4 separate regions of the Homo sapiens genome follow, and all the other regions are reported to be linked to region 4. Evidence: microRNA targets listed by miRTarBase, many of them from high-throughput screens and not tested one by one. Region 4 holds a microRNA gene; each other region holds the end of a gene's coding sequence.

Evidence for each region. The annotated mature microRNA hsa-miR-4796-3p reads UAAAGUGGCAGAGUAUAGACAC and lies in region 4 at 1,811-1,832, shown strand. An mRNA with a match to its seed (bases 2 to 7 or 8) in the 3' UTR can be bound and repressed. Matches are read on the target gene's strand: a 7mer-m8 pairs with bases 2 to 8, a 7mer-A1 pairs with bases 2 to 7 and ends in A, and an 8mer does both.
Region 1: miRTarBase lists KIAA2013 as a target of hsa-miR-4796-3p. Seed matches in the 3' UTR shown: 7mer-m8 at 836-842.
Region 2: the mRNA of PXN is a reported target of hsa-miR-4796-3p. Seed matches in the 3' UTR shown: 7mer-m8 at 2,971-2,977.
Region 3: the mRNA of HSPA8 is a reported target of hsa-miR-4796-3p. Seed matches in the 3' UTR shown: 7mer-A1 at 6,445-6,451.

Annotation. Positions count from the first base shown.
Region 1 is chr1:11,913,755-11,920,875 of GRCh38, reverse strand. KIAA2013 reads left to right here. Exons shown (of 3, transcript NM_138346.3): 3 at 544-1,285. The coding sequence ends at 561. Among named protein-coding and RNA genes, the nearest start is that of KIAA2013, 9.1 kb to the left of the region's middle. RefSeq lists a silencer at 3,758-3,913 and an enhancer at 5,787-5,846.
Region 2 is chr12:120,206,508-120,213,628 of GRCh38, reverse strand. It overlaps PXN (paxillin), which reads left to right. Exons shown (of 15, transcript NM_001385981.1): 15 at 1,049-3,182. The coding sequence ends at 1,315. PXN-AS1 (PXN antisense RNA 1) reads right to left here. Exons shown (of 4, transcript NR_038924.1): 2 at 7,008-7,084; 3 at 3,695-3,790; 4 at 801-1,254. Among named protein-coding and RNA genes, the nearest start is that of PXN-AS1, 8.8 kb to the right of the region's middle.
Region 3 is chr11:123,051,113-123,058,223 of GRCh38, forward strand. It overlaps HSPA8 (heat shock protein family A (Hsp70) member 8), which reads right to left. Exons shown (of 9, transcript NM_006597.6): 9 at 6,377-6,807. The coding sequence ends at 6,622. It overlaps SNORD14E (small nucleolar RNA, C/D box 14E), which reads right to left and starts at 7,044; the gene lies at 6,965-7,044. It also overlaps the pseudogene RPL31P47.
Region 4 is chr3:114,738,163-114,745,283 of GRCh38, reverse strand. It overlaps MIR4796 (microRNA 4796), which reads left to right and starts at 1,759; the gene lies at 1,759-1,839. The region is part of intron 5 of ZBTB20 (zinc finger and BTB domain containing 20); the gene reads left to right.

The sequences.
Region 1 (7,121 bases), not on the chromosome of region 4:
CCAAGACCAGGACTTGGAAAAGGAAGCAGAACTTGACCTGAAAGAGCAGAAGAGTGGGAGACAGGGCTGAGTTCCTCAAGTTCGAAGAAAAATCAAAAGTCAGATCAAAAAGGACTGCACAGAGGCCTTCCTTGTGAGCCGCCTCTGAACTAGCTGCACTAGGACAGGTGCCAAATGTGCATCGTGTGGGTTTTGCCGTCTGTTTGGCAGGCGGCTGCTTTTCCCTGCTGCTTGGTGGCTTCTCTGCCCTCGCTCTTGAGTGCACCTTCGGTTCCTCCCACAGTTGGGCAAATGAGCCAAACTACCTTCATGGGGTACTGACCGATCTCTCCTTGACTTAGGCTCAAGCTGGGCCATGCCAGAGTGGAGCCAGTGAACACTCAGCTCCAGAAGGGCCCAGGCCACTGAGTCCGTGGTAATTCTGCAAGGCTGGGTCAGAGCCAGGGTGTGGTGCCACTAGGGTTGTCTCCGTAGCCTATTTCTATAGCTGGCCACTGGGGTTGGCAGTGAACAGTAATCACACTTGTTTTGTGAATTGAACAGGAAGATCCCAGTGTCTGAGTGAACTAACAGTCCTGCTTTCAGCCACCATTTGCACAAGACACCCAGCACTGAAAGTCCCGCTGCCAGGAGCAAGGGATCCTTTGGAAGCACCCGCCCTTTGTGCCTTGTTGGGGGAAACCGGTGACGCAGAAGTGAGTGTGGATACACCAGAGTTTGCATTGGAAGGAATGAGTGTCACGTGGGGAGGGAAGGGGCCAGTGGACCTTTTGTAAGCTTTCCACTCAATAAAATGAACCTGTATGGCAAATACTTGAAATGGAACTCACTCCTTCCACTTTCCCCCTTTCTTCTGTCCCAGGAAATAGATCATCTTTTGAAAAGACTCTTGTCTAGGAAAAGTTGTGTCCTTTTCCTAATTTAACGTGTTCTTTCTTAATGAAGTTTTAATTTATTTTTGTTGAGATTTTGCTAGATGGCTTTTGCATCCCCTGTAGATGGTGAGTGTTGGCGGTGATGTCCATCTCGGCGTTCGGAGGCCCCACGGTCCCGAGGCTGGGCCGGGGCCCCCCAGGGTGGCTGTGCTGCTGCCTGTAGGAGGGTGCGGGTTGTGCTGTCATCCTCGGGTTTGCACGCCCTTTTTTAGGAGCCTGTGGACATCTGTGGTTTTGTACTTTGGGGCTTCAGGGGAGGTGTTTAACTTTCTAGTGATTGATGATTGTCAGGTTTTGAAATACCAAAGCTTTTTTGTTCTGTTTTTAAATAAATATCTTTCAAACTTTCACGACCGGTTTGTGTGTGGTTGAAACCTGGAGACATGCACCACGTCTGCCCTCAGCACTAGATCTGTCAGAAGCAGGACACCCACCCGGCCCTGCTGTCACAATGCTATTCCTTTCTGGTATGTTCTACCTCTCTTCAAAGGAGTCTGCCCAGAAGATGTGTTGTTTGCCACCTTTCTGCTCGCCAGGGGGTTGCTGAGTGGCCCTGCTGAGTGGGTTGCTTCTGGCATTACCCTAGCTCCTTCCCTGCTAAGATGCCCTCTCCCCCACCTGCCCTAAAGAGCCAGGGTTCTCCTGCCCTGGGTTTTGCTGGCTATAGGACGTCAGCAAGACAAACCCTGAGTGGTTCTTCTCCAGGTTGTCTGCTGAAGCCACCATCAGATGCCTCCCCTCTGTGGGGAGGAGAAGGGTCCACTCTGGGGACCAAAAAGGGGCCGAGCCGGGCATGGCAGTCCACCTGCGGGGCTGTCCTCAGCGTCTTGGCGTTTAGACTTTCTCTGCGTTCCCAGACAGCATTTTAAGCAGCATGACTCACCGGGAAGCCTGGTCTGCCTGCAAAGCAGCCAAATGTCTGGCCCACAGCCGATGGTTATGAGAGTAAACTCAAGCTCTGCTTTTAGTGGCACTGGTCACCCACTTACTTCTGTCCATGCAGCACCTTCTCCCCTGGCTCATGCAGAGCTCTGACATGTGATCTTCCAGCCGTGGGCCACGGGCTGGTTCACCTATTACAGAGTGGGAACCTCCTGGGGTGCAATTGGTGTCATTTACAGTGTGACATTAAACGGAAAGCTGTTAGACCACAACAACTGCAGCTCCCATTCCTTCTTGAACTTGGAACTGGGCATGTTGTAGGCTCCCATAAATGTAAAACAAGACCGGGCGTGGTGGCTCACGCCTGTAATCCCAACACTTTGGGAGGCTGAGGTGAGCAGATCACCAGAGGGCGGGAGTTCAAGACCAGCCTGACCAAGATGGAGAAACCCCATCTCCACTAAAAATACAAAATTATCCAGGCGTGGTGGTGCATGCCTGTAATCCCAGCTACTCGGGAGGGTGAGGCAGGAGAATCACTTGAACCTGGAAGGCGGAGGTTGTGGTGAGCCGAGATCGCGCCATTGCACTCCAGCCTGGGCAACAAGAGCGAAACTCCATCTCAAAAAAACAAACCTTTGTATGTGGTGCCTGAGAAATACCTATCGAATGATTAGAATGTCAATAAACTGAGGTTTGTAAAGTACAGCTCTCATTAAGTGCTCACCATACGTGTTAGATATTTCACATCAACATGGCCTTTTGGGATGAAGAGGTTGCTGGGGGTTAAGATCCCAGTTTGAGAGATGTGGAACCTGGACCTCACACAGTGAATCATTTGTCCAAGGCCACGCGACCATGGAGTGACTGGAGTGCAAACTCTGCCTCGATGCCGGTGCAGGCTTGCTTGGATCCCCACACTGCCATTTCTCCCCATGGTGTGCGTCTGATGGCTTCTGTGGCATGGCTCAGTGTCCACAGGGCTTCCAGCTGGCCACCATGGTAGAGAGGAGATGCTGGTGGTCCATGGTGGAGCGGGCCAAGCAGTAACCCTGGTGGGTCCCATCTGCACGGTCCAGTGGAGGCTGTGGCTGCACAGAGAGCCTTTTTCTTTTTTTTCTTTTTGAGACAGGGTCTCGCTGTCACCCAGGCTGGAGTGAAGTGGCACGATCTCGGCTCACTGCAAGCTCCACCTCCCAGGTTCATGCCATTCGCCTGCCTCAGCCTCCTGAGTAGCTGGGACTGCAGGCGCCCGCCACCACGCCTGGCTAATTTTCTGTATTTTTAGTAGAGACGGGGTTTCACCATGTTAGCCAGGATGGTCTTGATCTCCTGACCTCGTGATCTGCCCGCCTCGGCCTCCCAAAGTGCTGGGATTACAGGAGTGAGCCACCGCGCCCGGCCACAGAGAGCCTTTTTCAAATTGCTTTTTCAGGGCCTGAAATCTGGTGTGGAAAATTTAATTGCATACTATCTGAAGCTTCCCAACAGCCGAGACATTGGTTTGGAAATGTGTTCACTCCCTGAAAATCCACCTGCACCTCATACCTCTGTCCCATCTCACATCCTCTCAACCACCTCTTTTTTTTTTTTTTTTTTTTTTTTTTTTTTTTGAGACGGGGTCTCATTCTGTTGTCCAGGCTGGAGGGCCGTATGGCAGTCTCAGCTCACTGCAACCTCCTCCTCCCAGGTTCAAGCGATTCTCCTGCTTCACTCAGCCTCCTGAGCAGCTGGGATTACAGGCGTGTGCCACCACACCTGGCTAATTTTTGTATTTTTGGAAGAGACGGGGTTTTACCATGTTGGCCAGGCTGGTCTTGAACTCCTGACCTCAGGTGATCCACCCACCTCTGCCTCCCAAAGTGCTGGGATTACAGACTTGAGCCATCGCACCCGGCCTCTCTCAGCCACCTTGACTCCTGCCATTGTGGCGACAGCCAGCTCTGCATGGGTCTGAGTGTCCTGGCAGCACCCAACATCAGCCTCTGTCATCTTTAGGAAGCTGCGAGGCACTCAGGCATATGTAGCCTTGAAGCATGTGAATGACAACACCGTTTGGGGCCACCCTTCACCCGTGGGACATGGAGCCAGTAGACACAAGCTCTCCTCTTCTGTCACTGGCGTGGACAATTCGGAGGCACATTTTATTCGGCTCCTCAGAAGGTGCTACGGTTTGGATATGGTTTGTTGACATTTGGCCCTCAGTGTGGCAGTGTTGGGAGGTGGGGCTTTGTGGGAGGTGTTTGGGTCACGAGAGTGGATCCCTCATGGATGGCTTGGTGCCTTCTCTCAGGAGTGAGTGAGTTCTTCCTCTTGTGGGAATGGATTAGTTCCCGAGAGAGCAGGTTGTTATAAAACCAGGAAGCCCCTTGGGTTTTGCTTCTTTACACGTGTCTGCTTCCCCTTCAACCTTCTCCACCATGCTACGAGGCCAGGCAGATGCTGGCACCATGCCCTCGAACTTCTCAGCATGCAGAGCCGTAAGGTAAATAAACCTCTTTTCTTGACTGGGCATGGTGGTTCACGCCTGTAATCCCAGCACTTTGGGAGGCCAAGGCGGGTGGATCACGAGGTCAGGAGATCGAGACCACCCTGGCCAACATGGTGAAACCCTGTCTCTACTAAAAATACAAAAATTGGCCGGGCGTGGTAGCTCATGCCTGTAATCCCAGTACTTTGGGAGGCCAAGGCGGGCGGATCATGAGGTCAGGAGATCGAGACCATCCTGGCTAACACAGTGAAACCACATCTCTACTAAAAATACAAAAAAATTAGCCGGGCATGGTGGTGGGCACCTGTAGTCCCAGCTACTCGGGAGGCTGAGGCAGGAGAATGGCGTGAACCCGGGAGGCGGAGCTTGCAGTGAGCCAAGATTGCGCCACTGCACTCCAGCCTGGGCAACAGAGCAAGACTCCGTCTCAAAACAAAACAAAACAAAGCAAAAAAAACACACAAACATTAGCTGAGTATGGTGGCACATGCCCGTATCCCAGCTACACAGGAGACTGAGGCAGAAGAATCGCTTGAACCAAGGAGTCAAAGGTTGCAGTGAGCCAAGATCATGCCACTGCACTCCAGCCTGGCGACAGAGCGACACTCCGCCTCAAAAAAAAAAAAAAAAAAAAAACCTCTTTTCTTTATAAATTACCCAGCCCCAGGTATTCTGTTATAGCAACATGACATGGACTGAAACAGAAGGTCCCCACAAGATCAAGCCCCGGGTAGGAGACCCAGGCTAAGGCACTAACCAAGAGGCCTGTGGCTCCTCTGGACGATTTTTCCAGGAGGAAGTGGGATTCTCCGTGGCCACTGACATGGGCTGAATTGTGTCCCCTCCTCAAATTTCTACGTTGAAATTTTTTTTTTTTTTTTTTTTTTGAGAACTGTGGAGTGCACCCAGGCTGGAGTGCAGTGACGTGAACATGGCTCACCACAGCCTCAACCTCCTGGGCCCAGGCAATCCTCCTATCTCGGCTCCCCAAGTAGCTGGGACTGCAGGTGTGCACTACCACACCTGGCCAGTTTTTGTATTTTTTGTAGAGATGGGGCTTTGCCATGTTGCCCAGGCTGGTTTCAAGCTCCTGAGCTCAAGTATTCCACCTGCCTCAGCCTCCCAGAGTGCTGGGATGACACGTGTGAGCCATCATACCAGGCCCCTGTGTTGATGTCCTAACTTCCAATGTGATAGGATTAGGAGGTGGGGCTTTTAGGGGGGTTCTTAGGTCATGAGGGTAGAGTCCTCATGAATGGGATTAGGGCCCTTCTAAGGGGGCCCCACAGAGCTGCCTCACCCTCTTTCCGCCATATGAGAATGCAATGAGAAGACAGCAGTCTGCAACCGGAAAGAGGGGCCCCACTAGAACCCAACCATGCTGGCACTGTGATTTCGAACTTCAGTCTCTGGAACTGGGAGAAATCAATTTCTGCTGTTTTGAAGCTGCCCGGTCTACGGTATATTGTTAGAGCAGCCGGAACACACCAATACGGGCATATCCTTCCAGCGGAGAAATGGAACTCTTCTCTGGTGATAACAAACCAAGAATACAGAGAGTCATAGGACCGTGGATGCTTCTTTTTTTTTTTTTTAGACAAGGTCTCGCTCTGTCGCCCAGGCTGGAGTGCAGTGGTGCAATCACAGCTCACTGCGGCCTCAGCCTTATGGGCTCAAGCAACCCTCCCACCTCAGCCTCCTGAGTAGCTGGGACTACTCAGCCTGGCTAATTTTTTTTGTATATCTTGTAGAGACGGGGTTTCACCATGTTGCCCAGGCTGGTCTCAAACTCCTGAGCTCAATCGATCCGCCCACCTCAGCCTCCTAAACTGCTGGGATTATAGGCGTGAGCCACCGTGCCTGGCCAAATAAATCTTAGGGTATTTCTGGTGCAGGAGTAACCAGATTCTGACTGAGCACAGTGGCTCACACCTGTAATCCCAGCACTTTGGGAGGCTGAGACAGGAGGATCTCTTGAGCCCAAGACTTCGAGACCAGCCTGAGTGATATAGTGAGACCTTGTCTCTACAGAAAATTTTAAAAGTTAGCTGAGCATGGTGGTGGCGTGCACCTGTGATTCCAGTTACTTGGGAGGCTAAGGTGGGAGGATCGCTTGAGCCCAGGAGGTGGAGGTTGCAGTGAGCCAAGATCATACCACTGTACTCCAGCCTATGTGACAGAGTAAGATCCTATATCAAAACAAAACAAAAACAAACAAAAAAACCCACAAAACCAAAAACTGGTTAAACAAAAGGAAGAGTATTGGTTCACATAACAGTGTAGCTTAGTAGGAGCTTCAGGAACGGTTTGATCCAGGACTCAAGTGATTTAGGGATGCATTAGTATCTCTTAGCTCTGTTTCCTGTAGATTGGCTTCCATCCTCAGACTGGCTACCCTTATGGTAACAAAAATGGCCACAGTTATCACAAGCTTGATGCCCTCCTAGCATTAAACCCACTGGAATCCAAGTCCTGGTGTTCCTACCCAAAAAGCTGAGGCTCACCTCTGCACAGCCCAGCCCTAAGTCAATCACTGTGGCCAGGGTGAAAGGGATATGCTAATTAGGATAGGCTGGCCAGGCCGTCTCAGAGCTGGGGTAGGGTCAACCTCCAACCACTGAACAGACACTAATCAGAGAGGAGCAGCTTCCCAGAGGAAATTGTGGGTACTCTTGTCACGGATGAGGGCGAATAGATGTTGGCAGCGCAGTACAGACCTCCAGTATTCCTGCAAGGTGAGTGTCAGTCCTGTTTTACAGATGAGGAAAGTGAGGCTCCCAGATGATAAGTCATTAAGCCAAAGTCACATAATT
Region 2 (7,121 bases), not on the chromosome of region 4:
CCCCAGTCCAGCCCTGTGCAGCGGCCCTGGGCCATTCCTATTTGGGAGGAGAGTGTGTGAGAACTAAATGAGATAATGCAAGTATTTAGCAGACTCAACAGAAATGGGCAGTGGTTTCCAAAACCACTGCATTCTGGGGGCCCCACAGGGGTTATTAATGATTCAACAAGGGCTCTCTGACCAAATGAGTTTGGGAAACACTGTTCCCTGCAGGACTTCTCAGAGCCTTTTCTTTTCTTTTCTTTTTTTGAGACGGAGTCTCACTCTGTTGCCCAGACTGGTGTGCAGTGGCACGATCTTGGCTGACTGCAACCTCTGCCTGCTGAGTTCCAGTGATTCTCCCGCCTCAGCCTCCCAAGTAGCTGAGATTACAGGCACACGCCCCCATGCCTGGCTAATTTTTTGTATTTTCAGTAGAGACGGGGTTTCACCATGTTGGCCAAGCTGGTCTTGAACTCCTGACCTCAGGTGATCCGCCTCCCTTGGCCTCCCAAAGTGCTGGGATTACAAGTGTGAGCCACCTCACCCGGCCCCTCTCAGAGCCTTTTCTACCTATATGTGATGTGAATCTCCAATGAGAATCTAGGAGGCAGAGTTTGACTACAGACCAGTGTCACACCTGTGTTTCTGGGAACACTGTTACAGCCACCTGGCTAAGTGCTCAGGAGTCAGACCTGTGTATGAATCCAGGCTGTGACCTCAGTAGCTGCATGACCCTGGGCAAGTTACTTCACCTGTGTGCTTCAGTTGCCTCCCCTGTTGGGAGAACTAAATAATCCCAGCCCTGTGGGAGGCCGAGGTGGGAGGATTGCAGGAGGCCACATTTGACCAGCATGGGCAATATAGTGAGACCCCCATCTCTACAAAAAAAATTTATTTAATAAAATAAAAATGAAAAATGAGCGTTTAGGACAACACGGCACATGGGAAACGCCTAGCAAGTAGGAGTCACTCCGAGCGTGCCGACTATGCCCACCTCGGCCCCATCACACAGGGTGCAGCTCTAGCCCGAGGGGCAGCTCCCTGAGCCCCTCTCTCCGCCTGGCAGGAATGCTTCACGCCATTCGTGAACGGCAGCTTCTTCGAGCACGACGGGCAGCCCTACTGTGAGGTGCACTACCACGAGCGGCGCGGCTCGCTGTGTTCTGGCTGCCAGAAGCCCATCACCGGCCGCTGCATCACCGCCATGGCCAAGAAGTTCCACCCCGAGCACTTCGTCTGTGCCTTCTGCCTCAAGCAGCTCAACAAGGGCACCTTCAAGGAGCAGAACGACAAGCCTTACTGTCAGAACTGCTTCCTCAAGCTCTTCTGCTAGGTGCCCTGCCCCTGTCTCTGCCCCCCTTCCCCAGCCAGCATCCCCAACTGCGACTGTGACCTAGAGACTTCACCCGGGGGTGAAGGGGTAAACCCGACTGAAACTGGAACCCTTGTCCTCCGCTGGTGCGGGATGGACAGAGGGCCGTGAGGGGTCCCCCTGCTTGTCTTCACCCCTGCCAGAGCCTCTGGGCCCCCTCCTCCCTCCTGTAGCTCTCCCTAGGCTGCCCACTCTCCATCCTCCCCAGGGGTAGAGGCTGGGGGCTCCACCCCAGCCCATGTACGTCCCCACGAACTGGCCTGGCCAGCACCCCACACTGGAGCCATCTCTTCCTCATATTTCAGCAGTGCAGCCGGGGGGCAGGGAAGGGCAGGCAGGGTCTGTTGGGGTCTCTTTTTATCCTTATTCCTCCCCCGACCTAATTGTCTTTGTTCTGTGATTATTGGGGGACACCCGGCTCCCTCCAGACAATGCCAGCATAAATCCATCCATCCAAAGGCAGAGAACCAAAGGGGCCATGGAAGGTTCTCTGTGCTCCTCCTACCCTTCCAGTGCCCTAGGCCTGGCGACTGCCCCTGCCTTTTAGACCCGCCCTCCCCTTTTATACCTGCTCTTGTTCTACTGAGAAAAGCCTCTCCAGCAATAATGTTTTCTAGTCACTTCCTCCGTCTCCGGGACGGCGTGCCTGGACACTGTACCGACTTTGATAGATTTCTACACTGAGGTTTGAATTCATATCGCCTGAGTTGCTTTTACTTCTCTATACAAAATGATTTTGAAGAGATTTTAAAGACGTTCCCTTTTGTATTCTCTTCCTCATCCACCGCCACTGGGCCTGTCACTGATGGTGGCTCTGGTGTGAAGTTTGCTTTGTACTGAGGGTTGGGGTGGGGAAGCAATTTGTATTTTATTGTTTCTTAGCACAAGCAGGTGAACTGGGAGCAGCTCTGTGACTCCCCCTCTTTCACTTCATAGCTCACCAGGACTGTTTTATAAACTGCTGTATTTGGAAACCCCTTCTTTACTTCCCAGGCCAGCAAGCTCTTCACTGAAACTGGTTGAAGGGTGTTGCACCCTTTTGGGCCTAGAATTCTGAACTTTATCTGTTCTGTTTCTGTGGGAGGAGAAGGGGAAGTATGTTTTGGGGGGCTGCTTCCTGTCTGAGTAAGCCCTCAGGAGCCTCTGCTCCCCTGTGAACCCACTGAACCTTCTGAGCCCCCACTGCTTCTATGGGGCTCTCTCTTCTGCCTTCTCAGGAAAGCTGGTGTCTGATTTTGGCCATCAGGACTCTGACGTCTCTTTGGTCTTGTTGATTTCCTCTGGGCATATCCCTTCCCCAGATCTGCTCCTCCCCTTTCACAGGTGGGATCGGCACTCAGGGGGTCTGGAAAGAAGGTCATAAGGGAGCATGATAGGATTTGGGGCAGAGGGACAGGCTCCTCTGGGGAAACCCCCCAGAGCTCTTTACCAAGGATGAAAGAGGAGCCAGGCCTTGGGCTCCTGATGAGGAGAAAGGGGCCCCACCGGGGTCTAATGGTGACAGTCCAAACCACTCCACTGGCCTCCTGGCAGAAGCCGAGTGTGCTGGGGTCTCCGAAGAGGGTCCCTCCTTTTTGGGGGAAGGTCAGCCCAGCCCCTCCAAAGGTCTGATGTCTCCACTTTCACCCGCAGGCCTTACCGCTCTGTTTATAGTGACCCACCCTAGATCTTCCCCAAGAGGGACTGGGGTTTCTGGGGTCCATTCTCTGAGTCAGTGGTTATTTGAAAATTTGATTTTGATTTTATTTTTTCTCTGTAAACTTCCAAGCTGGCTTTTCCCATTTCAATTCCTGTGATTTATGCCAATAAAGTTTGCCCATGATTTTCACCTGTGCTAGTGCTATTTCTTGGTGGTCTGAACCTCATGGTCCCAGCAGAGACCAAACCCACCCCAGATGCAGCTGGATCACCAGATGGAGGGTAAATTGTGGATGTTTCCTTTCTTGAGGTCAAAATCCCTGGGGCTGGGGTCCGTGGTCCTTGCCTGTGGTCACAGGTCCTCCCCGTGGGCTTTGCTCCTGCCTGGGCAGTTGGTGAGGACAGGCTGGGGAGCAGCGGGATGGGGCCCTGTGGGGCAGGGCCTGCCCAGGGTGTGATCACCTGGGTTTACCAAGGGCATCCTCACTCACGGGCTTGTGGGTGGCTTTCCACTCATTTAGAAGTAGGGAAAGAGGCTCTAGGACAAGAACCTACATGTACAAGGCAATCTGAGTGAGGGCAGAGCCATGATGCGGACCCAGGGCTTGCCTCTGCCTGTGTTCCTGCACAGAACCAGACGCGGCCGTGCCTGAGCCCACACAACGTGGGTTAGCCCCTTCCCTGCCGAAGGCAGTTACTTACAGTTGAGGATGGGTCTCTACTGCCTCCTCGTCGTCATGTCCGGATTTGCGTGCTTCCTCTTTGCTCCGGTCAGATCCAGAGCTCCAGTCCTAGGCCCTAGAGCAGGGATGTCCAATTTTTTTTTTTTTTTTGAGATAGAGTCTCACTCTGCCCAGGCTGGAGTACAGTGGCATGATCTCGGTTCACTGCAACCTCCACCTCCCAGGTTCAAGGGATCCTCCTGCCTCAGCCTCCTGAGTAGCTAGGATTACAGGCAGCTGCCACCACACCCGGCTAATTTTTGTATTTTTAGTAGAGCCAGGGTTTCACCATGTTGGCCAGGCTGGTCTCAAACTCCTGATCTCAAGTGATCTGCCTTGGCTCCCAAAGTGCTGGAATTACAGGCGTAAGCCACCACTCCTGGCTTTTTTTTTTTTTTTTGAGATGGAGTCTCACTCTGTCATCCAAGCCAGAGTGTAGTGGCACGATCTCGGTTCACTGCAGCCTCTACCTCCTGGGTTCAAGCAATTATCATGCCTCAGCCTCCCAAGTAGCTGGGATTACAGGTGCCCACCACCACACCCGGGTAATTTTTGTATTTTTAGTAGAGCCAGGGTTTTACCATGTTGGCCAGGCTGGTCTCAAACTGCTGATCCCAAGTGATCTGCCTGCCTCGACCTCCCAAAGTGCTGGGATTACAGGCATGGGCCACTGCGCCCAGCTGGGTGTCCAATCTTTTGGCTTCCTTGGGGCCATGTTGGAAAAAGAAGAATTGCCTTGGGCCACACATAAAATACACTAATGATAGCTGATGAACTAGAAAAAAAATAATAAAATCACAAATCTCATAATGTTTTAAGAAAGTTTACAAATTTGCCCTGTAATTCCAGCACTTTGGGAGGCCGAGACGGGCAGATCATGAGGTCAGGAGATCGAGACCATCCTGGCTAACACGGTGAAACCCCGTTTCTACTAAAAATACAAAAAATTAGCCAGGCATGGTGGCGGGCGCCTGTAATCCCAGCTACTCGGGAGGCTGAGGCAGGAGGATGGCATGAACCCGGGAGGTGGAGCTTGTAGTGAGCCAAGATCACGCCACTGCACTCCAGCCTGGGCGAGAGAGCGAGACTCCGTCTCAAAAAAAAAAAAAAAAAAAAAAAGAAAGTTTACAAATTTGCATTAGGCCAAATTCAAAACTATCCTGGGCCGCATGTGGCCCACAGGCCATGGATTGGACAAGCTTGTCCTAGAGCTTCCTGGGCAGTTTTGTTTAACCTTGAGCTGTGTCTTCACAGCTTCCCTGTTGTTTGGAACGGTTCTCCAAAAGCAGCATGTTGAATTCTAGTTTAAACTCTTCCCATGCTATAGTGAGCTCAGAAGTGAAAATTACCTTCAACGCTCACCCAAAGAGAATGATGGGGCCAGGCTCTGTGGCTCATGCCTGTAATCCTAGCATTTTGGGAGGCCAAGGTGGGAGGATCATTTGAGCCCAGGAGTTCAAGAGAATAACTTGGTTTATTCTTCCAGCCCATGTTGGATTTATTTTATTTCTAGAAATGGGTATGGTATATTTCCTTTTTTTTCTTTTTTTTTTTTTTTTTTGAGATGGCATCTCACTCTGTCACCCAGGTTGGAGTGCAGTGGCGCGATCATGGCTCACTGCAACCTCTGCCCCCCAGGTTCAAGCGATTCTCCTGCCTCAGCCTCCTGAGTAGCTGGGATTACAGGCACCCGCCACCACGCCAGGCTAATTTTTATACTTTTAGTAGAGACGGGGTTTCTCCATGTTGGCCAGGCTGGTCTCGAACTCCTGATCTCAAATGATCCACCCTCCTCGACCTCCCAAAGTGCTGGGATTACAGGCGTGAGCCACCATGCCCGGCCAGGTATGGTATATTTCACTGTAATGTGCTTTTCGCTTTGCTTTGTGGATATTTTCCCATGTCAATAAATATAGATCTGTACCATTTTCTAATGGCTTCATGGTATTCCGTTATATTGATGTACTACAATTAGAGATGATATTTATATCATCAGAGCCAGGAGGTCCTTGGAAATGTACCTTGTGCATATGTATATACTTGGAAAAGTGCGTTCAGAGGGAGGCTGACTCAGGGTTTGGAATGGACTGTATAGCACAGTGAGGCCCAGGGGCTTTGAACTTCCTCCTAGATTTCAGTTCTGAAGCCTTCACTTACTGGCTGAGAGACTTGGGCAAATTATTTAACCTTCCTGTGAGTATTCTCATCGATAAAATGGGAGTACTGACAGTACTGTATCTCCTCAGAGGATTGTTGCAAAGATTAGCTTCAGTAATGTGCACAGAGTACTTAGGACAATACGAAGTGTGCAGTAATACATTGCCATTAAAAAGAGATCTCGGGTGTCCGCGGGTTGCCGAATGGAGCTGAGCATCTTGATGGAACCAGGGATCTCAGGGTGAAGACTGAAGCCCTAGGCTATGGCGGAAGTTGGGTGCCTGAAGTACAAGTGGAAATATGCCAACTGAACATTGGACCACCACAGCCTGCCCCCTGGCTCAGCGCCCAGTGCCAACAGAACACCTTTCAGGATCCACAGCAAGGCAGACAACGGAATCCACACAGGCTTCCATTCTCAAAAGGCCATCAAAACATAACTGCCGGCCGGCCACGGTGGCTCATGCCTGTAACCCCAGAACTTTGGGAGGCCGAGGCCGACAGATCACTTGAGCTCAGGAGTCCAAGACTAGCCTGGCGAACATGGTGAAACCCTGTCTCTACTAAAAATACAAAAAGTTAGCTGGGTGTGGTGGTGGGTGCCGGTAATCCCAGCTACTCTGGAGGCTGAGGCAGAAGAATTGCTTGAACCCAGGAGGCGGAGGTTGCAGTGAACTGAGATTGCACCATTGCACTCCAGCCTGGGCGACAGAGCGAGGCTCCATCTCAAAAAAAATAAAATAAAATAAAATAAAAATTAACTGCTGACGAGACAATTTATATTTCCTTCCCCTCACTACACTCCCTGAATGTTCTGGATCAGTGTGTCTCACACCTTTGGATCTTACAAGCTAGTTGGGAAAGTTCTATGGAGAAGGCAAAGATTTTGAAGGCACAGGAGACTATCATAGACACTCACAATGATCATAGATAGTAGTATCATAGTACCATAGATACTCCCAATGATCATAGATAGTAGTATCATAGTACCATAGATACTCTCAATGATCATAGATAGTAGTAGCATAGTATCATAGATACTCACAATGACATCTCCCTAAAGGATTCAAAAGCTTTGCATCAACCAAAGGAAAAGCACCAGTGAGAGTCAAGATACAGTTCCAGACAGATGCTACCTCTGATTGTAAAGGTGTCCAGGTCTTGTGCTTATGATGTGCTCACATCAGTGCCGGAAACGATGAAGACAAAGAGACTGGAAGGAAGAACATGACAGTTTAGTGAGTACTAAG
Region 3 (7,111 bases), not on the chromosome of region 4:
TGGACCCAGCAGAATGGCTCTTGCAGAGAAGGGCGGTGAGAAGGACCATTCTGCCATCAGCGGAGGTGATCATCTGAGACTCCACCATCAACATTTACATGCGTACCCGTGAAGTGGGCTTCAAAAAGGGTGCCCCTTGGGCACTCAGAGAGATCCGGAAATTGGCCATGGAGATGCGGACTCCAGATGTACACATTGATATCAGGCTTAACAAAACTGTCTGGGCCAAAGGAATAAGGAATGTCCCATACTATATCCATATCCATGTGCACAGAAAACATGAGGATGAAGATTCACCAAAAACAGCGCTGTACCTATGTACCTGTTACCACTTTCAAAAATGTATAGACCGTCAACATGGATGAGCGCTAACTGTTGATTATAAAATAAAAGTATAAAACTACCAAAAAAAAAAAAGCCCAGTAAACCCAGCACAGCCATGATTATTCCATTCTTTGAGAGTAAGAATCTTATTTTTTTTTTCTTTTTCCTTCTTTTTTGTGGAGTGGGGGGGCGGACAGAGTCTCACTCCATCGCCCAGGATGGAGTGCAGTGGCACCATCTCAGCTCACTGCAACCTCTGCCTCCCAGGTTCAAGCCATCCTCCCATCTCAGCCTCCCAAGCAGCTAGGACCACAGGCATACGCCACCATGCCCAGCTAATTTTTGTGTTTTAGTAGAGATGAGATTTTGCCATGTTGCCCAGGCTGCTCTTGAATTCCTGGCCTCAAGCAATCCACCCACCTCAGCCTTCAGCTGAGCAATATTGTTCTTCCTCATCCATGTTCCCAATTACAATGGTAGGCCTTTGTCTCTGTCTCTGTCTCGCTTTCTCTTTTCTCCTTGCAGGGGAAACCAGCCCTACGCCTCTTTCTTTTTCAGTTAATATATGTATTTATTGAGATCATACAATTCACCCATCTAAAGTGTGTAATTCAATATTTTTAGTTTACAGAATTGTGCAATCATCACAATTAATTTAGAACAATCTGATCACCCCAAAACAAATATCCCATACCCTTTATCACTCTGTATTTCTCCCCGTTTTTCCCCTCAGCCTATGCAACCATCAATCTTTTTTGTCTTAAAAGATTTCCTATTCTGCACATTTCATATCAATAGAATCATATGTGTTTTTTTATGACTGGGTTCTTTCACTTACCATAATGTTTTTAAGGCTAATCTATGTTGTACCACATATCAGTACTCAATTCCTTTTTTTTTTTTTATTTGAGACAAAGTCTCACTCTGTTGCCCAGGCTGGAGTGCAGTGGTGTGATCTCAGCTCACTGCAACCTCTGCTTCCCGGGTTCAAGCGATTCTTTTGCTTCAGCCTCCGGAGTAGCTGGGATTACAGGCACACACCACCATATCCGGCTAATTTTTGTATTTTTAGTAGAGATGGGGTTTCACCACGTTGCCCAGGCTGGTCTTGAACTCCCGACCGCAGGTGATCCGCCCTCCTCCTCGGCCTCTCAAAGTGCTGGGATTACAGGTGTGAGCCACAGCGCCCAGCCCCATCAGTGTTTTCCAAAATGGCTATACCACCAACAGTGTATGAGGGTCCTAAGTTCTCTACATCCTTGCCAGCTTGATTATACGAGAAATTCCTAATGTACGAGAAATTCTATCTCTGTGATAACTTGCATTTCACTGGTGGCTAATGTTGAGCATCTTTTCATGTGCTTATTAGCTATTTGTTTATCTTCATTGAAGAAGTGTCTATTCAGACATTTTGCCCATTTTAAAAAATGGGTTGTCTTTTTGAGTTATGAGTGTTTTTCATATATTCGGGATAACAGTCCCTTATCAGATATATGATTTATATTTTATCTAGTTTTATGGGTTTGCCTTTCACTTTCTTGATGGTGTCTTTATCTTGGCAACATGGCAAAACCCCATCTCTACACAAAAAAGTACAAAATTAGCTGGCCGTGGTGGCATGCGCTTGTGGTTCCAGTTACTCAGTAAGAGGATCACTTGAGCCCAGGAGGCGGAGGCTGCAGTGAGCTGTGATCATGAAACTGCATCCCAGCTTGAGTGACAGAGCAAGACCCTGTCTAAATAATAATAATAATAAAATAAAATAAATAAAAAATTGAGCTGGCTGCATGCTCTGAATGTTCTGTGCTGTGGCCCAGTGTTCTAGGACAGGCCCCATTGCTCCAGGCAGGCCCTGACAGTCTTATACTGCAGACTAGCTACACTGTCTCTGTTCATCCCACTGACTCCACATAGTGCCCAGATCTCAGGGGCAATGTAAAGACCTTTATTCCGGTCAAGATCTTGGCAATTCTGTTATTGCCAACTTTCCTTTACCCAAATCTGCTCCAGGTTTGATCACTTTCTTCTCATCACATGCAACTCTAATGTTGGCTCCCCACCCTGCAAGGAACAGAGAGTGAGTCTGAGCTCATCCAGCAACCACCCTCCCACTCTTCCAAGAGAGATGATCATGAGCAGACTATTATAAAGCACAAAGGGAGCACATTCTACCCTCTTGGGTACCTGCTCCACCCACCCCTTTTTATTCATTCACTTGACAAATATATGTTGCTTATGTGCCAGACACTGGGAACACAGGTGTGCACACAGGTGCTTCTCCATTCTTGGGTGAGCTTCCTGAGGAATTTAAGCATTTCACCAAAGTGTGTTGAGAAACCCAGAAGCAGTTCAGGGGGATGAGGGAAATAATATGGGGACTTAAACTAGCCAGTGTGGCTCCGGAAAGGCTATATTCTCTGAGCTTTTTCTTCACCTCACCCTCTGTATTCTAAACCTGTCTGTATTACCCATCCCTCCATACCCATTGCCCAAGTATCCTGAGATCTCAACTCAAGCCATTACTCCCACCTAAGCAGGGCACTTGCTCAGTTGAGAATGCTGGGCCGGGCGCAGTGGCTCACACCTGTAATCCCAGCACTTTGGGAGGCTGAAGCGGGTGGATCACCCGAGCTCGGGAGCTCGAGACCAGCCTGACCAACATGGAGAAACCCTGTCTCTACCAAAACCACAAAATTAGCCGGGCATGGTGGCGCATGGCTGTAATCCCAGCTACTCGGGAAGCTGAGGCAGGAGAATTGCTTGAGCCCGGGAGGTGGAGGTTGCAGTGAGCTGAGATCTCATCATCGCACTCCAGCCTGGGCAACAAGAGCGAAATTCCATCTCAAAAAAAAAAAAAAAAAAAGGAGAAAAAGAATGCTTTGCCTGGAAGGTAATTGTGGATATTTAGAGCTGACTTCCTTTTCCTTCTTCATTATTTGCTGTGCTTCCAGCTAGAAAGCACAACAAACAGCACAGACAATGCTACAGCAGCTTCCCCCGGGGTACTCTGATAGTTTTATAAATAGCTACTGCCATCTAGTGGACAAAGATGACTACATCAGTACGTAGACCCACAGATACGGAAACTCTCAGCGTTTCTATTTATGTCCTGCAACCACTTCATCCCACCTTAATGGAATCCAAAAGACCACTTTTCCTTTGAAAGCCTAAAGCCTGGAACATTGTAAGTACTCAATATAGTTTGGACAAAGGATTTTTCACGGGCATTGTCATTTTTTAATTTTATATGTAACAAATATTGTAGTAATATTGTTGGATAATTTTATTATTGTGGCTTTATACTATTGCCTTAGAAGTTTAAGTCTATTAAGGGCCAGGCGTGGTGGCTCATGCTTGTAATCCCAGCACTTTGGGAGGCGGGCAGATTGCCTGAGCTCAGGATACTGAGCCTCGGTACACGATGAAACCCCATCTCTACTAAAACACAAAACATTAGCTGGGTGTGGCAGCGTGCACCTGTAGTCCCAGCTACTCAGGAGACTTAGGCAGAATTGCTTGAGCCCGGGAGGTGGAGGCTGCAGCAAGCTGAGATCACACCACTGCACTCCAGCCTGGGAAACAGAGCAAGACTCCCATCTCCAAAAAAAAAAAAAAAAAAGAAAAATGTCTAATAAGGTCAAGTAGAAACTGAGAGAGCTATAGTAATAAAAATACATTTTAGAATATAACCATATTGCCAAGTTCACCAGAAACCTGCATGTAACTCCTAAACTGGACCTAGAGATTAAGTTTTTTGGCCTGTCTTCCCAATCCAGTAGCGCCCTGTGCAGCAGGGACAGAACCATCTAGGTCATGGAGTTTCCTCTTATAAACTCAAACCTCCTTACAGTAACTTGCAAAAGCAAATTTTGCCACCGTGTAGATTTGTGCATGCACAGCCAGAGCATCCAAACATCCCTCCATTGTAAGGTTATTTGGAGAATCAAATAAGGGGAGAAGCAATTGCCATTAACTCGAAATTCAATGGGAAGTGGTAGACACTGCTGTCCCTATGGTTACCTTCTCTTTCTCTAAGCCTTACCTAACAGCTAATTAGACATTTATAGGGTTTAAACATCTTTACTGGTTTTTTAAACTACTAGCCCACAGCAGAACCCTAATTACAAACAATAGGCCAGGCACAGTGGCTCACACCTGTAATCTCGGCACTTTGGGAGGTCAAGGTGGGGCAAACCATTTTGAGGTCAAAAATTCAAGACCAGCCTGGCAACATGGCAAAACTCCCGCTCTATAGAAAATATGAAAATTAGCTGGGCATGGTGTCCCAGCTAGTCAGGTGGGAGAATGCAAAGGTGGGAGGATGCAAAAGTGGGAGGCAATGTCTGCAGTGAGATCGCACCACTGCACTCCAGCCTAGGTAAGGGAGGCTGGAGGCTCTCAAAAAAAAAAAAAAATCCATTTCCCCAGATTAGACTATGTGATGACATTAAGTGTCCACCTGAGCCTCAGTATCATCTATAAACACATTCTGGTTTATAAATAGATGAAAGTATAATACGAATAACTGAGAAAACCTAGCAAATATTAATTCCCACCTTCCCAGGCCCCAATTCCTTGCTATACATTACACATGTCCAACAAGTTATTATCTGTATAGGGGAAACATTGCCATATTTACTCCTCTAATTTTGTGTTTTGCTAATGAACATTAAGCTAACATTAACCTGAAGTTCAAAAATTTACAGTAACAGCTACCACTGAAAACCTTCCACATATTTTTAAGATTCCACATGAAACGAGATCAAAGTATATTTACCCTTTAGTCTCGTTGAGTCAAGGCATCAAAAAAGTTTGTAGCATCTCAAATACATGGTATGGCCATGTGCAGTGACATACACCTGTAGAGCCAGCTACTTGGAACTAAGGCTGGGTGACCACTTGGACCCAGGAGTTCCAGTCCAGCCTGCACAAGTGATAACACACCCCTATGGAAAACTGAAGCCCAGGTAAGATTCTCACCCAAACAAAAGAAACATGCCAAAAACGTGCATTGCTGTCAGGTGCAGTGACTCACACCTGTAATCCCAGCATTTTGGGAGGCCGAGGCGGGTGCACCACCTGAGGTAGGGAGATCAGCCTGACCAACATGGAGAAACCTCATCTCTACTAAAAAATACAAATTAGCCAGGAATGGTGGCGCATGGCTGTAATCCCAGCTACTTGGGAGGCTGAGGCAGGAGAATCCCTTGAACCCAGGAGACAGGGTTTGCACCATTGCAATGAGATCGTGCTATTGCACTACAGCCTGGGCAACAAGAGTAAAACCCTTCAAAAAAAGAAGTGTGTACTACTTGTCATTTTTTGTAACCTTGGAGAAAATATGGAATGAGAAGTATATCAAATCGTGCTACAAATTCCCACTGAGATACCCAGACATTAGTAGCCCTTCAGTACCAAAGAGAAAAACTGCAGCTCCTCCATGAATTAGCTTTTTGGCATATGCTAAGATTAGCTAGTCCACTGAAATCTGTCACGTACGTAATGACAGGTAACAGCCTGCTCCCCTAGGCTATCACAACTCACTGTTGGGACCTTAATTAACCAGGTGGCAGCTTAGCTCCATCCCCGACCTTCTGAATAATCTTAACTCAGGAAGAAATGGAAGCCCACAGGGCAGTGGCTCATATAAGGGATTGACATTCAGATACCTCTGCCATGTAGCTTAATATTCACTGCCCATTATTTGATTCTGATCTCTAAATTCTTACTCATCTAGCACAACCCTCCAGGAAAGCCTCTGCTCCTAGGCAGGCTTACACACAGAATAAGTTTAGAAAACACCATTAAGTCAGCTTTCTGCCTCTCCAGCCTAAGGACTAAGGTTAGTTTGATCCAGATCCAATTTCTTATGCTCCCCTTCTCAAAGCTCTGAATTCCAAAATGTACCATCCACAATGCTCTGAAGGGCAACTTGCCACCCAGCCCTTGTTAACTCAAGCTTAAGAGGAAGGAGAAAGTAAGAGTCACATAATCACCTAAGCCTACTTCTCCCACCAGCTGGCCTGGGAGATTATTTAAAGACTCAAAGCAATTGTATGGTGCCAATTTTAAATAGTTTTATTTAAGACATTGCATTTTCCACTTACAATACAGTGTTTATAAAGTGCAATGTTATTTCCTTCCCCTGTGCATATGTTCCATATTCAAGTATTGAGAATGCCCAGTAACTTACTATAGCAGCTTAACTTTTTAAAACTGCCACAGAATTTGCTACGAATTTAGGTCCTTCAAATGTTTTAAATGTGTGGAACAATGCTACATCTACACTTGGTTGGCTTAATCAACCTCTTCAATGGTGGGCCCTGAGGAAGCACCACCAGAGGGAGGAGCTCCACCACCAGGAAATCCCCCAGGCATTCCTCCTGGCATGCCTCCTGCACTCTGGTACAGCTTGGTGATGATGGGGTTGCAAACTTTCTCCAGCTCTTTCTGTTGATGTTCAAATTCTTCCTTCTCAGCAGTCTGAGGAAGAGAAAAAGGAATTACTGCAAGTTCTTTTAATGTTAATAACCCTTCTTTCTCCCTGACGCAATCTGATACTAAAAGTCTGGCGCAAACTCTTACAAGAGGGCCACTACCAACATTAAAATAGGGCCTTATTCTTCCTTAACATCTTGGGTCACTCAGACATCCAAGGAAGGTAGTTGCCAACACCTTGAATTCTGGTGGAAACCGCGAATGTTTTGGACCATTCATCATTGTGACCCTACACTGAAATCCAGCTCAAGCTTGGTTTACCATCCCCTTCCCCTCCATTGAGTGGGGG
Region 4 (7,121 bases):
CAGATTCATGGTAAGCATTGTTTGTGGAACTGTTGGACGGGTCTGGTGTGTAGTTGATGTTGTTGTTCTAAACTGAGCAGCAACAGTAACAACAAACAACGAAATCCTACTTCCCACTCTCTTCTTCCTTTCTATTCAAAAACAACCATCACTATCACAATAGCCCAGTAGACAAAATAAAAGCATGTCTATATTTTTGGTATATTACTGTATGTCTTAACTGTAGTTTCTCTGCCACACATTAACAGAGTTATTTATCCCTGATGTTTTTCAAAGATCACCTTTGTGCTTGTCTGCATAGCTGTTCTAATAGTGTTACTATTGTCTCTTCTTCATTATCTCCTTTTATTTGAGTTCTTTTTTTTCACGTATGCAAAGAGGCTCTTTTTCTAGGCTCTTTGCACACATTCACCATTGCACTAGGACAGATGGGTGTTTTTCTATATAATGCCTTTTAAAGTGAGAAGACAGCAAGAATAGATTTTGAACAATATTTTACCAGCATTATTGAAAAATTAGCTACTGTATATTCTATATACACACACAGCAGCTGCATAAAATGCAAATTCTATTCATGTCTGATCTCTTCTGCATTTATATGGTGACTATCGCTGTAGCACCTAAGCACTTTATGTTATTTCCTCTTATTATTATTTACCACCTGATCATTCCAGAGTGCTTTTTACAATCAGAGAATTTCATTAACAACCCATTCCCTCGCTCTTTGTTTTTCAGCACCCTTGCATGTAAAAGTATCAAGCATCTTGGTAGCTATATCAGATAAATTACAGTAAAAAGATAGAGGGCTTCCGACAGGAGGGCAGGGGAAAAAACACCCTAAAGCATCTCCTAAAATTTGGTTTGTGTTTTATGGTATCCAAATAATGTTACAGAAGTCTGTAATTTTAGTGAAAACCAAACCACTAGATAAGCGCTTTTATTTATCATGGTTTCCACCATTGCAATAATCGAAAGTGTGAGGTGAGGAAGAGGAATACTGTCTGCACTTCATAGATAGAGAGGACTGGGCAATTGCACTTTCTTCTCACTGTGGAAAGCTTGTGATTCTTATTGACTCTTGAGCTGCCTTTAGCCCAGAAGTATAGAAGTCAATCTGTTTTAAAATCCAAAAAGCTACTGTTATATTTTTTAAGCTAAGAGGATAGAAACATGTTTATTAAAAGGTTCATTGTGATTATAGATGAAAGTGCGTGGTTGGTACCTTAACAGTTTGATTGAATAAAAATCAAGTTCACACTGGGGTTTCCTTCTCAGCTCTACTCCTTGCTTTCTCTTTGACTCCAAGCTAATTGCATAACCTCTGGTTGACTTGTGCCTCGTCTACACATTCAAAGTGAAATTCAGAAATGAGGTTATTATCTAACTAATGTAGGCTGTAACATTATTTCTCTAAAATATCTCTGTGAGAGAATTTTGAAATTTCTGATTTCAGTAGATAGTAAAAAAAATAACAATTTTATGGACCATCTCCTTTTATTCTTAGACAACAACCCCATGGAGGTGGATACATCAGAGTCAGCTGGAGGTGGTCAGAATTATTTGCAATGTTTGGTAAGACACAGATTACTGCCCCTTCACCAAGTTTCTGATTCAGAGTCTAGGGTAGGGACTGATAATTTCACTTCTGATATGTTTCCACATGATGCTGATGGGGACCACATTTTTTGGATCACTGCCCTAAGGATGATATGGCTTAAGTACATATAGAAAAGGAAATCAAGGCTCAAGTCATGGCAGTAAATTTGTGTCTATACTCTGTCACTTTACTTTTGGCCTCAAGTCATTGCAGTAAAGTGGCAGAGTATAGACACAAATTTAGGCCTTCTTCCTACTACAGACATTTTCTTTTCACTTCTACTAGAGATATTTTCACTTTACTTTTATGTTTTGAATGACTGTCAGTCGTCTTGAGATCCTAAGTGAAAAAGCATTGTAAAGAGTGGTAATTGGATCTTTTCCCCTTAGATCCAGTGGCTACCCTATTGCATTTGTGAAAGGAGAGGAGGAAGCCATTCCAAATTTTAGTGATTAGCTTTGGTATGAACAGCTTTTAAGGCCAGCTTTATACTTCCCTTTGGGGATGAGAGTAATAAACATAGTCTTCTTTGTATTCATTCATCATAGCCTGTACATAGATATGAACAGGTTTCTCTTTGATGGACTTATGACCATGTTCTGCTGTGACAATGCTTTGTAAAAAAATTGTCACTTGTATATTACTTCTCCAAAAATCATAATAAAAAAAAGATGTCAAAGTGAACATGATGGGGCAAGGGAAAAACCACTGCAGACAGACTGAGGACACTTGAGTCTTGTACTACCTCACATATTGGCACAGATATACTGACCTCCATGGGAGACACCCAACAATTCTTCTTTACCCAAGCTATATGTTACAGTCACCCAGAAAGGCTTTGAAACAAACACCCACATCAGGGCCCAGGTACAAGAAATTCTGATTTAATTGTTCTGGGGTAGGGTCTGAGTATCAGTAGGTTTTAAAAGCTTGCCAGGTGCTTCTAATGTGCAATCAGGGTTAAAAAACCACTGGCCTAGTGTTTAAGGGCCTGGGTTTTGAAATCAGACAGATCTGAGTTCATATCTTGGCTCTTTCACTTAGTTACTATGCAACCTTGGACAAGTTATTTAATCTCTGTCAGCTTTAGTTTTCTCGTATGTAAAATGAAAATAATAGCACTTGTCTTGTAGGAGATCTATGAAAATTAAATTAAATGATACATTTAAATGTTTGACATCGTACCTGGCTTGTGGTATGGATCTACTACACATCAGCTGCTGTTGCTATTATAATGCACCTCAGTTTCCTTATCTGTAAAGCAAAAGAGGGGGCACTTTAATTTATGAAATGGAGGACAAATATCTCAGGATTTCGTATAGATACTTGTCTGTCACCATATCCACAGTATCCTACCCGGCTTCATTTTTGCCGTTCTTACTTCCTACACATATTTATTATTGTTAGGTACAATCATTGACAGGCTCAACCTTTATTATGATATTTTACCAATAAATACTTCTCTGCCCTCCCCCTTCCCACCAAGATTAAAAACTTGAAACATACAACAAATCCACTTGTCATATGGGGTAATGTAGGTATGATGGGTGGTTGACCTATGGGTTTAAGAAATAAAAGGCAGAGTTTTGTAAACATGTCTAAAAACTAACATGCCCCTATTCTTGATTGCTATTTTTTTCTGCCATCACTCACTCTAAGAGTTCAGTTGTTGGTAGCTTTCATCCTAGAAAAGGAAAATTGTTCATACTCTACTTCTTAAAGATTATTGCAATTTGTTAATTCCCTTCATTTTCCCATTTTCCCTGATTTCCTTCTGTATGTCTTTTTTTCTTTTCTTTTTTTTTTTTTTTACAGTCTTGCTCTGTCACCCAGGCTGGAGTGCAGTGGGGCAATCTTGGCTTGCTGCAACCTCCGCCTCCAAGGTTCAAGCAGTTCTCTGCCTCAGCCTCCAGAGTAGCTGGGATTACAGGTGCCCACCACCATGCCCAGCTAATTTTTTTTTTTTTTGTATTTTCAGTAGAGACGGGGTTTCCCCATCTTGGCCAGGCTGGTCTTGAACTCCTGACCTCATGATCCACCTGCCTCAGCCTCTCGAAATGCTGGGATTACAGGCGTGAGCCACCGCACCGGCCTCTTCTGTATGTCGTAGAGAAGCCTTAGTACACAATGAGTAGGTAACAAATTTTTAAAGCAATAATGATTTCATAAGCCTATTTGCTTATCTCCACCAGTGTTTAATAGGTTATACTTTTCATATATTTTAATATCTCTGATTTTAAAAATTAGACTTTCTAAAAGTCTCCTTGTATCACTCTTAACATAGAAATTATGTTTTTGGGTGGACAGAAAGAAATTATTTGACTGTCCAATAAAAGTACAGATGGTTCCATTTTTCTTGACTCATCTCACAGCACACATTAGTCAGGTCACATGCCTATTTGGGAATTTTTGTAGTACTAGGTCACTTGCCCAGCTTTGGGGCACATAAAAGAATATTTTCCTGGCTTTTAAGTTTGTGGATCTTACACTGTGCCTGGCATGGAGATAGGAAGGACATTTTTTTCCATTAAGCTTTTTCACTGTGTTTTGACAGGAAAAGTTGAAACAGAGTCCCTACTGAGATTTTAACATGTTCCATGGTGGTAACCGTAGGAAATAGGGAAACAGGAAATTTTTGGACAGAAGGAAGCCAAGGAGTCCATCTCAGCCTGTCCTCACCTCAAAGATACCAGTTGGACTCCATAATATTATTTTTATCTCCATGTTTATCTAAAGTTTCGTATTTCTATAGTTTTCTTTCTGATAGCAGGGAAACATTGCTGCCAATTATCATGAAAAAGATTGCTCTCTAAACAGTACTCAGTTCCTTCTTCTGGACAAATCAATGGAAATATTCATTCAGATATTAATAAAGCAGAATTATGGGAGTTTTCATTTGGAAAAATGTATTTTAGTGTTTAAAGAGATTCTCAAAAGATATCATGAGAAAATCCATGTAAACTCCAGTGATAGAGAAAGGTACTTGTTTCACACAAAAATATATAAACACAGAATAATGACATTTTTTGTTCATTAAATTCAAGGTGCTTAAAGTTGCCCATATGCACACACATACATGTATACCTTCCATTTACTCTACTTCTCCTCTACCACCCACTGTCCCAACCTTTGGGAACCAAAATACTGAAGTATAAATCAACTCTCATTTCTGAAAGATCTATAATGCCATTTAAGTGAAAGTCCTTAACCAACATATATTGTTATTTTTCCCTAAAAACTTAATTATGGACATTTTGATGCATGTGTTTGTTTGTGTGCATTTTTCGTACCCACAGGAAACATTTTTCAAACAATCTGGTCGATGGATCTCTATTGAAAATTTACCATTCATTAGCATCATACCTATGCTAATAGTTTCTATTGTCTTTCATTATTATGAATGAGATCCTAGACACACCATTTTCCATCATTTTATTTAAATAGTGAAATACAGTTAACCAAATAGCAGTCATGGCTATTAGCAACTTTTTGATATACATTTGGCATGGCAACAGTTATATTTTATTTCTCATGTCTATATTAATACCAAACCTTAAAATGGATTATGAAAATACAAAATAAGCTGTTAAAAAAGAAAACTGCTCTTTCCAGATCAGAAACAGTACCTCACAGGACTGGAATTAACATCATTATCATTGCCATTTTAAACGTAATCACCTCAGATTACATAATCTTTTACTAACATGTTTGTAAAATTAGGCTTTTCCATAGTCCAGCTTTGAAAGATAAACACCATGTGTACATAAGCATAGGTAAAATATCTCATAGATACAGAGCCCATAAAATGGGCATATTCTCATAAAGGCAGGAAAAGGTTTGCTCAAGGAGCAAGCTGATAAGCACAGTGGTGGAATGTCAGAATGCCTAGGCTCTGTAGTTCAGCCTCTACCACTGAATGAGTTTACCCTAAAGGATTTAACTTCACTGTATATCAGTTCCTACATCTGACTCAATGTCAACTTAAACACCCCCAACATTTTAATAACAAAATAATTAAGATCTAAAATTGTTTTGAAGTGTTCAATATTATATACAGATACAGCCTTCATAATGCTCAAGCTTAAAATAGGAATTGGGATCAAATTGTTAGAAAAAGTTCTCTTGTTCCAAATGTTGGAGACTGACTAAGTGATGTCACAGCCTCAAAGTTTTGCACAGGTTGACCACAAAGGCAGAGCCACAGAGGAGGAGCTGGCTTAAACAGGGCCCTGTGATGGTGGACTATGTTTTTTAAACTAATAGAAGAAATGGGAGACACTGAAATCTGTGAGGAAGCATGTAACATGATCACGTTTGTTATGTCTCTTGAATTATCTAAGGTTTGACACAAAGGGTGGATTCAAAGGGCCTGACAATTGGAAGCTCTGGTATGATAGAAAGGTTTTGCCTTAAGACTGTAGTTCTCAAACTGAATTGCACCTCAGGAACTGGCTTAAAATTCAGATTCTAGGGCCATATCCCTAGAGGTTCTGATTCCACGGTAGTTCTTGGGTGAGCCTGTGATTTTTCATTATAGCAGCACCTCTTAAAACCACCCAGGTATGGCCCATTCTCTGCTCAGCATTAGTTCTTTCCACTTCAATACGTTGGCACGATGGCCAGGCATGATGGCTCACACCTGTAATCCCAACACTTTGGGAGGCCAAGGCGGGAGGATCACCTGAGCCCAGGATCGCTGATGCCCTTGAGATCAAACTGTGAATTTTTTGTCATAACTAGTCAATAGTCTAGCATCCAGCTTATGTGGTTTCTGGTTATGGACAGTACTGAAAAGATTATTTAATGTTCTATAAAGTCCTACAGACAGAACATTTGATTTTTTCAATGGAAATTCTGTATCTTTGAAACGTTCTCTGTTTATTCCTATTACGTTTGCCTGTTTTAGTTTTTAGGAAAGAATACAAATACATCTGTTTGGTCAGAATTTTTACTTAATTGACACTATAGGATTTATCGGAATAGGGAGTCTTTTACAAATTTTGATATTGTTTTGTCCTGTTTTTTATGCATGTGCCCAGATGTCTTCACAAAACTAAAATGAATTTTTAAAAAATGAACAGTCTATTTAATGCACTTACCACATGTTGTTATATGAGAAGTGTGACATTTGACCTAACCTCTCTAAAACCCTTGAATCTATAAGGGTAAGCAAGAAGCATCCCCATTACTAAGAAATTTTTGTCATATGAAAGAAAATCTATCTTATTTCACATATTCAATTCCCTTGTCATTTTACATTATAAATAAATAACAAACCAATTTGGCACATGCCCACCGATTAAAAATAAAAGTTGTCAGAGAGGAGAAAGACAAAAATATGAATTATTAATTATAATATTAAGCAGCACAAAAAGCCTAACATGAAATGATATCACTTAAAAAGATTTTATCAAAATAAAAATTGGGCAATGATATAGTGCTTATTGTACAATTCAATTGTTATTTTAAATGATAAATATATTTACCATATCTAGTATATTTATATCAAATTTGATGAAAAGAT